Linked DNA regions of Homo sapiens. The protein of the gene in region 2 purifies or fractionates together with the protein of the main gene of each other region. This does not show direct contact. Each region holds a gene or a part of one and is shown on either strand. Other genes may lie near its edges.

Region 1 (3,651 bases), on a different chromosome or scaffold from region 2:
TCCAGCCTAGGTGACAGAGCAAGACCTTGTCTCAAAAACAACAAGACCACCACCACCAGAGTAGAAGGCACTGGCCAGGGATAAGGCAGCCAACAACAAGCAGGTGAGGGAAGATTTGGAGAGGAAGAGAACTTCCCTGGTTTCCCTGAAGTTCTCACTTTGTCTGAGTCAGGCTGACCTTGAGGAACCCTGACATCTGGGCCATGAGACATCTTGGGGATGACTTTCAACCTTCAGATGAAAGAAGCAGGTCTAGAGAAGTGTTGCTTCCTTCACTCTGATCCAAATGGGGAGTCAACCAGGCACCAGGGCTCAATCAACAGCAATAAACATCACTGTCTGAGGTCAACTGGCTTGCTCAGCTCTCTGTTATCAGGCACTGCCACCAGCAGCACTTCTATCAGAGTGCGAGCTCCTCAAGGTTAAAGGCATTTGAGAAGGGCTTACCAAGAGTCCAGACACTAGACAAAGTTACTTGTGCAGTCTGCTTTCAGACACTGGGAATGAAGTCTTCCTCCCTACCACCAAACTTGGGGGGAAAAAACAAAAAAAAACCTCTAATCCAATCCTTGGTCTGCAGGTAAGCTAAAGTGCAGATTCCTGAGGAGGATCACAGAAACTTCAGTACTCTGGTCTACCTTTCAGTGTGAATGAGTTCCAGCCCTATTCTTGAAAATTGTTATTGGAACAGAGCAGGTAGGCCCTGAGGCATATTGAAGGGAGTTAATGATTATGGAGTGATGCAGGGTGCCTGACAGCATTGGACAGGAGGGTATGTTTTCTCATGTTGGTCTCACAATAACTATGTAGAGCCACTCTTACCCCCATTGTACAGATGAGGAAACTGTTGCCTTAAAATACAATTTTTTTGTAATAAAGTCATGCTAATTTGTTTACATATTGTCTATAGTTGCTTTCACTGGCAAAACCTAAAATGTTTACTATCTGGCCCTTTCTAGAATGTTTGCTGACCTTGTTCTGAATTCTTCAAGCTCTAAATTTACCTCTGTAGAGAAAAACTAAAAACAAAACAAAAACCCAACTAATTCACATTCTTTCCTGGGCTTTTAGAAAAAGAACTGATTTGATAAATGGCCAAGGACCAACCCTCCCCCTCCCCCATAACATCTTTTATTTTTAAAATGTAATTGAAACATCTCTTTTTTGTTTTGTTTTTTTGAGATGGAGTCTCGATCTGTCGCCCAGGTGGGAGTGCAGTGGCGCAGTTTTAGCTCACTGCGACCTCCAGCCGCCGGGTTCAAGCAATTCTCCTTGCCTCAGCCTCAGCCTCAGCCTCCCGAGTAGCTGGGATCACGGGCTAAGGTCACCACGCCCAGCTAATTTTCCTTTTTTTTTTTAGATGGAGTCTTGCTCTGTCACCCAGGCTGGAGTACAGTAGCACGATCTCAGCTCACTGCAACCTCCACCTCCAGGGTTCAAGCGATTCTCCTGACTCAGCCTCCTGAGTAGCTAGGACTACAGGTGTGCACCACCACACCTGGCTAATTTTTGTGTGTGTTTTTTTTTTTTAGTAGAGATGGAGTTTCGCCACATTGTCCAGGCTGGTCTCGAACTCTTGACCTCAGCCGATCTGCCCGCCTCGGCCTCCCAAAGTCCTGGGATTACAGGCATAAGCCACATGCCCAGCCAAAAAACAGCATTGGTTTTAATATCTGATATAGCTGGCAGAGTCACACCACAAACAGATAAGAGCTCTCCCCTTTTTGCCTTGCAGCCAGGAAGCTCAGAACTAAACCTTGTATGAAACTGCAACAATATGGCTTAGCCAAATTTTTTGACATGATCGCTTCTCCCAAATCCCATTACTACTGGCCTAATGTCCTTTGACTTTTAATATTCCCATAATAACTACCAATTATTTTAGCTATCTTGCAGCCTTTCAAGACACAAGCAAGGGCACAAATAATTATTTTTATTTATTTATTTATTTTTGATGGAGACAAGAGTCTCGCTCTGTCGCCCAGGCTGGAGTACAGTAGCATGATCTCAGCTCACTGCAACCTCCGCCTCCTGAGTTCAAGCAATTCTCCTACCTCAGCCTCCTGAGTAGCTGGGACTACAGGCACATGCCGCCATGCCTGGCTAATTTTTAGTATTTTAGTAGAGACTGGGTTTCACCATGTTGCCCAGGCTGGTCTCGAACTCCTGAGCTCAGGTGATCCGCCCGCCTCGGCTTCCCAAAGTGCTAGGATTACAGGCATGAGCCACCACGCCCGGCCAAATAATTATTTATTTTGAAATGGTGGCTTGGACACAGCTCATTTCACGCTGCTCCTGGATGAAGACTTTCCAAGAAAGAGGATCTTTTCCCCAGAACCTGGGATGGGTACCCTGGCAGCTCTCTCATTGTTTAGAATTATTGCCCAAGAGCGAAGCAAAGAAGCAGGAAAGAGTTTGGCACTCAAAGACACATAAACCAGGTTCAAATCCTGGCTCTGCCTCCTTGGGCACTGTGGGAGCTGGTTCCAAACCTCTTCAGGTCCCAGTTTCCTTAGGTAAGAATGATGGCAGGAATGCCTGCCACCCATGTTTACTTATGAAGACTAAACAAGATAATGCACACAACTATGCTCTGTATCATGCAAATTTTAATTATTCCCATAAGTTAATCATCAAAAACTAATAATATTTATGGAAAACTAGATTATGCCAAGCCCTGCACTAGATACTTTACTGGCAAAGACTCATTGAATTCTTCCATCACAGGATGAAGAGATTCAGAGTTCAAGTAATGCCCCCACCCACACAAAAGAAAACAGCCAGGTATTTCACTAGGCTGGAAGGATTACAATATCAAAAGGCTGGTACTTACAAACAAATTAAAGAAACAAAGCACATATTTACTCCCAACTAGCATAAAGATAAGAACCTGGCTGAGCCCAAGGTAAGTATTCAAATACTTTATAGCAGTGACTGGGGGCCGAGAAGAGGGGGGCCAATCAATACTCCTCAGGGATGAGGAGTAAGAGACACGGGACAGTATGAAAAAGTGTATTTACCATTACAGGGATAACTTTCATATTTACAAAATGAAGGGGGAAACCCCATGGTTTTCTTAATACAAATCACATACTGTAAAGGTCCACAAACTCTTCTCAGCTGGGGATCTACGCAGAACACATGAGGGCATCTGCTCTGGGGGTAACAGGGAAGGAAAGAAAACAGTGAGGGTTTTTTTTGTTTGTTTTTTAGCATAGGTTTTGCTTTTATTTTCCTTTTATTTATTTTTTTGTAGAGACAAGGTCTCGATTTATTGCCCTGGCTGGTCTTGAATTCCTGGGTTCCAACAATTCTCCGCATTGGCCTCCCAATGTGCGGGGATTATAGGCATGAGCCACCACACATAGGTTTTTTGTTTTTGAGACAGAGTCTCGCTCTGTTGCCCAGGCTGGAGTGCTCGCCCAGGCTGGAGTGCAGTGGCACGATCTTGGCTCACTGCAAGCTCCGCCTTCCGGGTTCACACCATTCTCCTGCCTCAGCCTCCCGAGTAGCTGGGACTACAGGCACCCACCACCACACCTGGCTAATTTTTTTATATTTTTAGTAGAGACGGGGTTTCACCGTGTTAGCTAGGATGGTCCCGATCTCCTGACCTCGTGATCCGCCCGCCTTGGCCTCCAAAGTGCTGGG
Region 2 (3,651 bases):
CTCCGGGTTTGTGGTGGTTGAGAAAAGACCAGCAATTTGTGGTCCCTACATCTTTTCCCAGGAGAGCTCACCTTCCAGCATTGCGGTCCTGGAAAGCAGGGACAATGCCTCTTTATCTTTTCCCAAGATCTGTTGTAGAAGCTGGAATGCTGAAGGCACCCAGCACATACCCTGGTCTGGAAGGGCTGGTGGGGGTGCAGTAGCCTACCCAGCATCAGCTCTTCATTCCAACTCTAATAGAGACAGGAGGAGACCAGGTCAGTGTCCACACTGCTCTTGGCTGGGTCCAGGTGACCTCAGAGCCTGATCTTATAGATGTCTTCTTTCCTCTGGCCGAGAAGGACCTGAGAAGTGCTTGGTAAGCCCCTGGCTGAAAACTGATTTGGTAATGGGTTCTAAGACCCAGAAATGTTGCATCTCCAGAGCTTCTGCTTGTGTGTGCACCTGAAGCTTCCCACTGCCCCCAGGTTAACTTGTTATTCCAAGACCAGGTGTGAGCACAGATTTAACAGCAAATTGAGACATTTATTGAGTCTCTACCATGTATTAGGCCATAGGGCTACAGAGGTGAACGCTGAACCCCTGCCTTGGAAGGATTCATGGTGGATTTGGAAAGACAGTTTGTATATGTGTATGTGCGTCCCCATCCATCTGTCCATGGTCCTGTAAGTACTTTAAAAGGATAAGCTAGGTGCAAGAGACACCAGAGGATGCAGCCATTCATTCCGATGGGCATCAGGAGACACTGTGGAGCGTAGTTCTAACCATGGGGAGAAGTTAGTTCTAACTTCAAGGCATAATTTGAATTAAGCCTCAAACTTAGGAACAAGATGGCATTTAGGGCAGGCAAAACAGCAGGGGCAAAGGCATGAAGAGACTTTGTGGATCATAGGCGTGGTGATTCTTCTCCAAGTCCAACCTGGTCTTTTTTGTTTTTTGAGACAAGGTCTCACTCTGTCATCAGGCTGGAGTGCAGTGGCCCGATCATGGCTCAAGCAGTCCTCCTTGTACCTCGCACCTGGGACTACAGGCATGTGCCACCACACCCAGCTAATTTTTTATTTTTTGTGGAGACAAAGTCTTACTATGTTGCCCAAGCTGGTCTCGAACTCCTGGGCTCAAACAGTCCTCCTGCCTTGGCCTCCCAAAGTGTGGAGATATAGGCGTGAGCCACCGCACCCAGCCAAATCCAGCCTCTTGGTGTTCACTAATGCAGAACCCACCTGCTCTGGTTCGGGTCTGCTTTATCTCTGTACATGGGCCAGGCCTCACCTAGCCCAGGGCTAAGTGCCTATTCTCCTTGTTTTCACCTGGATGGGAGCAATGCCACTGTGTTGTCTTTGAGGCAGGAGTAACTTCTGCAGGGATGCCTCTGGTTTTAGTTATCAGCACTAATCTGTACTTATTGGTTGCCACACACTGTTGTGAGTGCTCTCCAAATAGTAACTTAATTCATTTAATCTTCACAGCAACCCTGTCGCCAGGCTGCCTCCCAGGTACAAGTAGGTGGGGGCTGAACTCCTCTGCCCAGTGTATGTCCCTCTGTGGGTGATGCTCTGATTGTGGCCCGGCCTCCCCCTGGCTGCCTTTACATAGATGTGCCGGGAAACAGCCCAGTCTGAATTGCAGTGGAGCACTGACCCCATTTCCTTTAGGGGACCGGCAGGACTGTGCTGACTGCGTTTTCTGAACCAAAGAACGGGATCTGTAGTGTGAAAAAAGAATGTGTGTGCCACTGCTTTGTGCAAGAGGAGGCCTGAGAAGTGTTTGGATACTGAGAGAGTGGAATTTTTGAAACATTTTGATGGTTTATATGGAAAGTTAGGACAGAGGATTTGAAATTGGAATAGTCCTGGAAAATTGAGGTCCCATGATTTACTGTTAGGATACACAAGCTTTTAGTAAATGTTTAAGCAGTGTAGAGTGAAGTGAATTTTTTTTACTGAGCCCCCATAGGGAACAAACAGTGCATTTTAGCCTCAAAATCTGACTGATTCCTTCCAGCCCCATTTTACAGAGGGGGTGAGAAAACTGAGGCTCAGAGAGATGAAGTAACCACCAAAGAGCACAGTGTTTGTAAGCAGTGCAGCCGAGATTTGTCTTTTTGGTTTTTGTTTGTTTGTTTGTTTTTTAAATATAGAGAAAGGGTCTCGCCATGTTGCCAGGCTGGTCTTGAATTCCTCGGCTCAACTGATCTTCCTGCCTCAGCCTCTCAAAGTGCTGGAATCACAGGCGTGAACCACTGTGCCTGGCTGCAGCCAACATTTGAACCCAAGTCTGTGCCTAGACAAATCATCTGTTGTCAAAGTCAAATAAAATATAAAAACAGATGTTTCTCTAAATTTAAAACATTTTGCTTGGGAAGTAAGAATAATAATTTGGGAAATCTATACAGACTAGGTGGTCTTTGGTTTGGAAAACAAAGAGAATGTTGGGAGTTTTATTAGAATGAGAAATATTATGTATTGTTTTGAAAAAAGTCCATCGGCACTAGAGAAGCTCTTCGGGAGCTGGCAAGCTCTGATTGTTGCATGATGGTAGCAGATAAAACTAGTCTTAGGGTCACAGCAATTTGTTTCAGTAGTTATTAAATAAAACTGGTTTTAGGTTATAACAGGCAGTTTTAGCAGCCACGCTTGCAGAGAATTACATTTTTGGAGCAATGTTATGTGCCCTGAGTATTTTTCCCCTGGCCTCTCAACTCTGATTTAGTTGGGCATTACAATAATGACCCAAATTGTATAATCAACTTCCACCCTGTAAAATGAGGATCATAATTGCACCTATTCCCTTTAAGTTGACTGTTGTCAATGAGCTAATGTGGAAAACTAAGGCAAAACTTGGCATAGAAAAGGGGTCCCTCACTTTGTGGTCAGACCCCTGACCCTCCAGACAAGTGCTTTGATCTGTGTTCAGTGCTGAGAGTCGCTGTGGGTGAGTGAAGGTCCCTCCTCAGCCAGGACCACAGGTCCCGGTTCTCAGGACTGAAGGGATATTCCAAGAGGGAGCATCCAGGACTGTGCAGGGGCCATGGCTGCCTGAATGCTGTGCTGATGAGGGTCCCCTGGCGTAGGAGTGGGGTTGGAGACCTGGCCCATGCATGTCACCTCCCTCAGCCACATCAGCTCAAGGGCTAGCCCAGAGGTTCTCGGTGAGGGAGGCAGCAACCAGCTCCATCAGCTGTTTTTTGACCGCCAGCCACCATTGGGCCTGGGGAGGGGAGGTTGGCCTCTGAGCTCAGTCTTCCCCACTGGCTCCCCCGAGTCCCCTCCCCTGCTCTGGTTATCAAATGCATTCATGGTTCTTGTAGAAAATAAAGTGTCAGGGAACACAAGAAAAATTATGCATGATGCTTCTCTGAAAGCAGCTGGTCCACTGTCAGCACTGCCATGATCTGCACATGCCCTCTCCTGCTTCCAGTGGATTCTCTACTCCACAGACGGGGGAGTCTTCCATACACTCCTATTTTTCTCAAAATGAAGACAAAGCTGATCTCTCAGCATCTCCTGCAGGCCCTATGTTCATGCTCTTTGAGCCCTCACCTCACCGTGCTCCTTCCTGCTGCAGGGACTGCAAGAGCCTGGGACCTTCTCCCCCTCCCCACTGATTACTTCATCCTGTGGGTCTCAGCTCCATGATTGCAGAGCCTTT
Region 3 (3,651 bases), on a different chromosome or scaffold from region 2:
ACAGATTCTTAAAAAACATGATTTATTGTAGGCAGATGTCACCTCTTTAAGCAAAAGAAAAAAACAACCAAAAAAAGAAAAGCCCCAGCCGGGTTCCGCGGCTCAAACACCTGCAATCCCAGCACTGTGGGAGGCCGAGGTGGGCGGATCACCTGAGGTCAGGAGTTTGAGACCATCCTGACCAACATGGTGAAAACCAGTCTCTACTAAAAATACAAAAATTAGCTGGCCTGTGATGGCTTGTGCCTTTAGTCCCAGCTACTGAGGAGGCTGAGGTGGGAAATCGCTTGACCCTGGGAGGTGGAGATTGCAGTGAGCCCACATCGCACCATTGCACTCCAGTCTGGGCCACAGAGGGAGAGCCTGTCTCAAGAAAAGAAAAGCCCCGTAGTTTATCATAATGTCTGTACTGGGATATGGCTGATGCTATGCATTTCTGTAAAGTAGCTTTAAAATATTTTCTCCTCTCACTTTTATCTTTTTCCTTTTTTTTTTTTTGAGACAGGGTCTCACTTGGTCACCCAGGCTGTAGTGCAGTGGTGCGATCTTGGCTCACTGCAGCCTCTACCTTCCAGTCTCAGGTGATCCCCCCACCTCAGCCTCTTAAGTAGCTGTTTTTTTTGTTTGTTTGTATGTTTTTAAATTTTATTTATTTATTTATTTATTTATTTATTTATTTATTTTTTGGAGAGATGGAGTCTTGCTCTGTCACCCAGGCTGGAGTGCTGGAGTACAGTGGCGCGATCCACCACTCCCAGCTAATTTCTTTTGTGTTTTAGTAGAGATGGGGTTTCACCATGTTGCCCAGGCTGGTCTTGGAATTCCTGGACTCAAGCAATCTGTCAGACTTGGCCTCCCAAAGTGCTGGGATTATAGGCGTGAGCCACCACCCCCGGCCACCTTTGTCTTAGTGAATGCTATTAAGTTGTTAGGTTAGTGATGTAGTCATACAACTTTTTTTTTTTTTTGAGATGGATTTTCCCTCTTGTCATTCAGGCTGGAGTGCAGTGGCGTGATCTTGGCTCACTGCAGCCTCCGCCTCCTGGGCTCAAGTGATTCTCCTGCCTCAGCCTCCCGAGTAGCTGAGACTACAGACTTGGGCCATCATGCTTGGCTAATTTTTGTATTTTTAGTAGAGACAGAGTTTCACCATATTAGCCAGGCTGGTCTTCAACTCCTGACCTCAGGTAGTCCGCCTGCCTCAGCCTCCCAAAATGCTGGGATTATAGGTGTGAGCCACCGCACCCGGCCAGATATAGACATACAACTTCTAGGAGGGACAAAGGTTGGCATATGATTCACCAGTGTTGTTCCGGGTGGTTGGCTAGATAGCTGTCTAATGGAATCCATTAAGGAGTAGGAAAGAGCAGCAAGAAAAATGGCTATTTTCACTATTTTTGAAATGGTCAGTTAACAGTTTGAGATAGATACATATACTTTTTTGAGACAAGGTCTTGCTTTGTTGGCCAGGCTTGGATTGCATTGATGCAGTAACGATTCACTGCATCCTCAACCTCCCAGGCCCAAATGATCATCCCATCTCAGCCTCCCACTTAGCTGGGCCCACAGCTGTGCACCACAATACCTGGATAATTTAAAAGAACTTTTTTTTCTTTTTCTTTTTCTTTTTTCCCGAGACAAGATCTCAGTATATTACTCAGGCTGGGATGCAGTGTCACATTTATGGCTCACTGCAGCTTTGACCCCCTGGGCACCTCAGCATGCCAAGTAGCTGGGGCTACAGAAGTATACCACCACTTCTGGCTAATTTTTGTAGAGACAGGATTTTACCATGTTGCCCAGGTCTTGAACTCGAGCTCAAGATTCACCTGCCTCGGCCTCCCAAAGTTTTGCGATTACAGGCGTGAGCCACCATGGCTGGCAAAAAAATTTTTTTGGTAGAGGCCTGGTCCCAGCGGATTGCCCAGGCTGATGTTGAACTCCTGAGCTCATGTGATCTTCCCACCAGGTAGCTGGTACCGCCATGACCAGCTAATTAAAACTTTTTTTTTGTGGAGACGGGATCCCACTGTGTTGTCCAGGTAACTCCTGGGTTCAAGCGATCCTCCCACTGTGGCCTCCCCAAAGTGCAGGGATTATAGGCATGAACCACTGCGCCCGGCCAGCTTGATATATTTAGGTATTGATATATCCAAATTGACGAATTGGTTGCCAACAGAACCTCATGGTTCTCTGACTAAATGTTAATGCTAGTCATGGCCCTAAGAACAATTTCAGATGTTCATTTAAATTTATTAAATTGTAGCAAATAATAATGAAAGTCACCATAATTTAACATCCACATGAGTATATCTTGAAAAGACAGACTAATTCATCAGCTACAACAGCAGGCATAAACTGGGATTGTCCTGGGCAACAAACTTGCCTTGTGGTCACCCTACTTAATGGCCATTTGTTACTAGATTTTGTCATTTAGACTCATACAACAGTTTCCTAAACGTTGTCCAGCTTTTTATCACAGAGATAGCTTAGATCTACGTCTCTAGGAGGTTGAATTTTTTTTTTTCAAATGAAGTTAGCCTTTGGCAGAATATAAGTCAAAGGAAAAGTGAAAATTTCCTCCTCCTAGCTCCCTCCCCCACAAATGGGAACGTGCTAGTTAAGGATGTGGTAGTTGCTGAAAATAGAGCTTGCTGGCATTCCAAATCCTCTGATGGTGTCAACACCTAGTGTGTTGGTTTTCTTATGGCTACCTTGAGCCAGTTCTGTGTTTAAAAATATAATAGACCTAGGTGTTGGTAGCAGTGTCCTAAGCTCAGAGCTTTCCCTACATACATTTTATTTTTTTATTTTTACAAGTGTCTTTCATACCAAATACCCACATAAAAATTTAAAGGCTCACCCATATCTTGTTACAACTGTTATGTTTAGAATGCCAAACTGTGTAGTTCAGACCATATGACCATGATCCTGGCTTATCTCTTCTGAAATTTTTATCTTGAATTTATTGCCCTTCCAACAATCTACCATAGTAGCTGGACGGATCTGTTGTTGGTGGGCTTGATTTGTGATCAGATCAGGATTTTATCGAGCTAAAGCAATATGAAATGTGTTTAACTCTTCATTCATATCTAAAGTTTGAAGGAGATGCATTACTGTAAGAGTTATGACAGTATTTCATCATTTGGCAGATGTGGTAAATCTGCCATCACAGAATGCACAGGAATCACTGGGTTCCTTATCTTTCAAATGGGGATTAGTGATGTCTCTCTTGCCTACTAATTTGCAGGGTGGTTATGAAATTTTGGGCTTTTGTAAACTGTAAAGTGTAATACTTGTCGGTACTATTTGTTGTGAAACATTCTTATCTAATGTGAAAGGTCAGATAATTGTTTTTGTTACTGCTGTGCTAGGATCATATTAGATGATAACCTACCTTTTTGAGTTATTCTTAGCAAGTGTAGTCTTCTGGGCTTAGTCCTTATGTAAGATATGCACAAAGAAATATTCTCAAAATCCTTAATCTTACATCTGTAAATTTGCATATCCAAAGTAAAGGTCGTCCAGATTATTCCCAAATAATAATTTTGTCATGTTGAGCTGGTATATAGTTGTTTTGATATTAATTTTAGATTAATAAGAGACTTTCTCCTTAGCAAACGTAACACCTTTTGTCTGAATTTGGGATGA

Evidence for each region.
Region 1: the proteins of PTPN3 (region 2) and ACOT8 purify together in Homo sapiens (affinity purification with mass spectrometry; 2 studies listed by BioGRID and IntAct, with this or other methods). This does not show direct contact.
Region 3: the proteins of PTPN3 (region 2) and YWHAE purify together in Homo sapiens (affinity purification with mass spectrometry; 5 studies listed by BioGRID and IntAct, with this or other methods). This does not show direct contact.

Annotation. Positions count from the first base shown.
Region 1 is NC_000020.11:45,850,829-45,854,479, forward strand, and holds part of ACOT8 (acyl-coenzyme A thioesterase 8), read right to left. Parts: intron 3,126-3,651; exon of another isoform or gene 3,095-3,125; intron 1-3,094. UniProt on the Homo sapiens protein: Catalyzes the hydrolysis of acyl-CoAs into free fatty acids and coenzyme A (CoASH), regulating their respective intracellular levels. Displays no strong substrate specificity with respect to the carboxylic acid moiety of Acyl-CoAs.
Region 2 is NC_000009.12:109,491,724-109,495,374, reverse strand, and holds part of PTPN3 (tyrosine-protein phosphatase non-receptor type 3), read left to right. Parts: intron 1-3,651.
Region 3 is NC_000017.11:1,390,168-1,393,818, reverse strand, and holds part of YWHAE (14-3-3 protein epsilon), read left to right. Parts: intron 1-3,651. UniProt on the Homo sapiens protein: Adapter protein implicated in the regulation of a large spectrum of both general and specialized signaling pathways. Binds to a large number of partners, usually by recognition of a phosphoserine or phosphothreonine motif.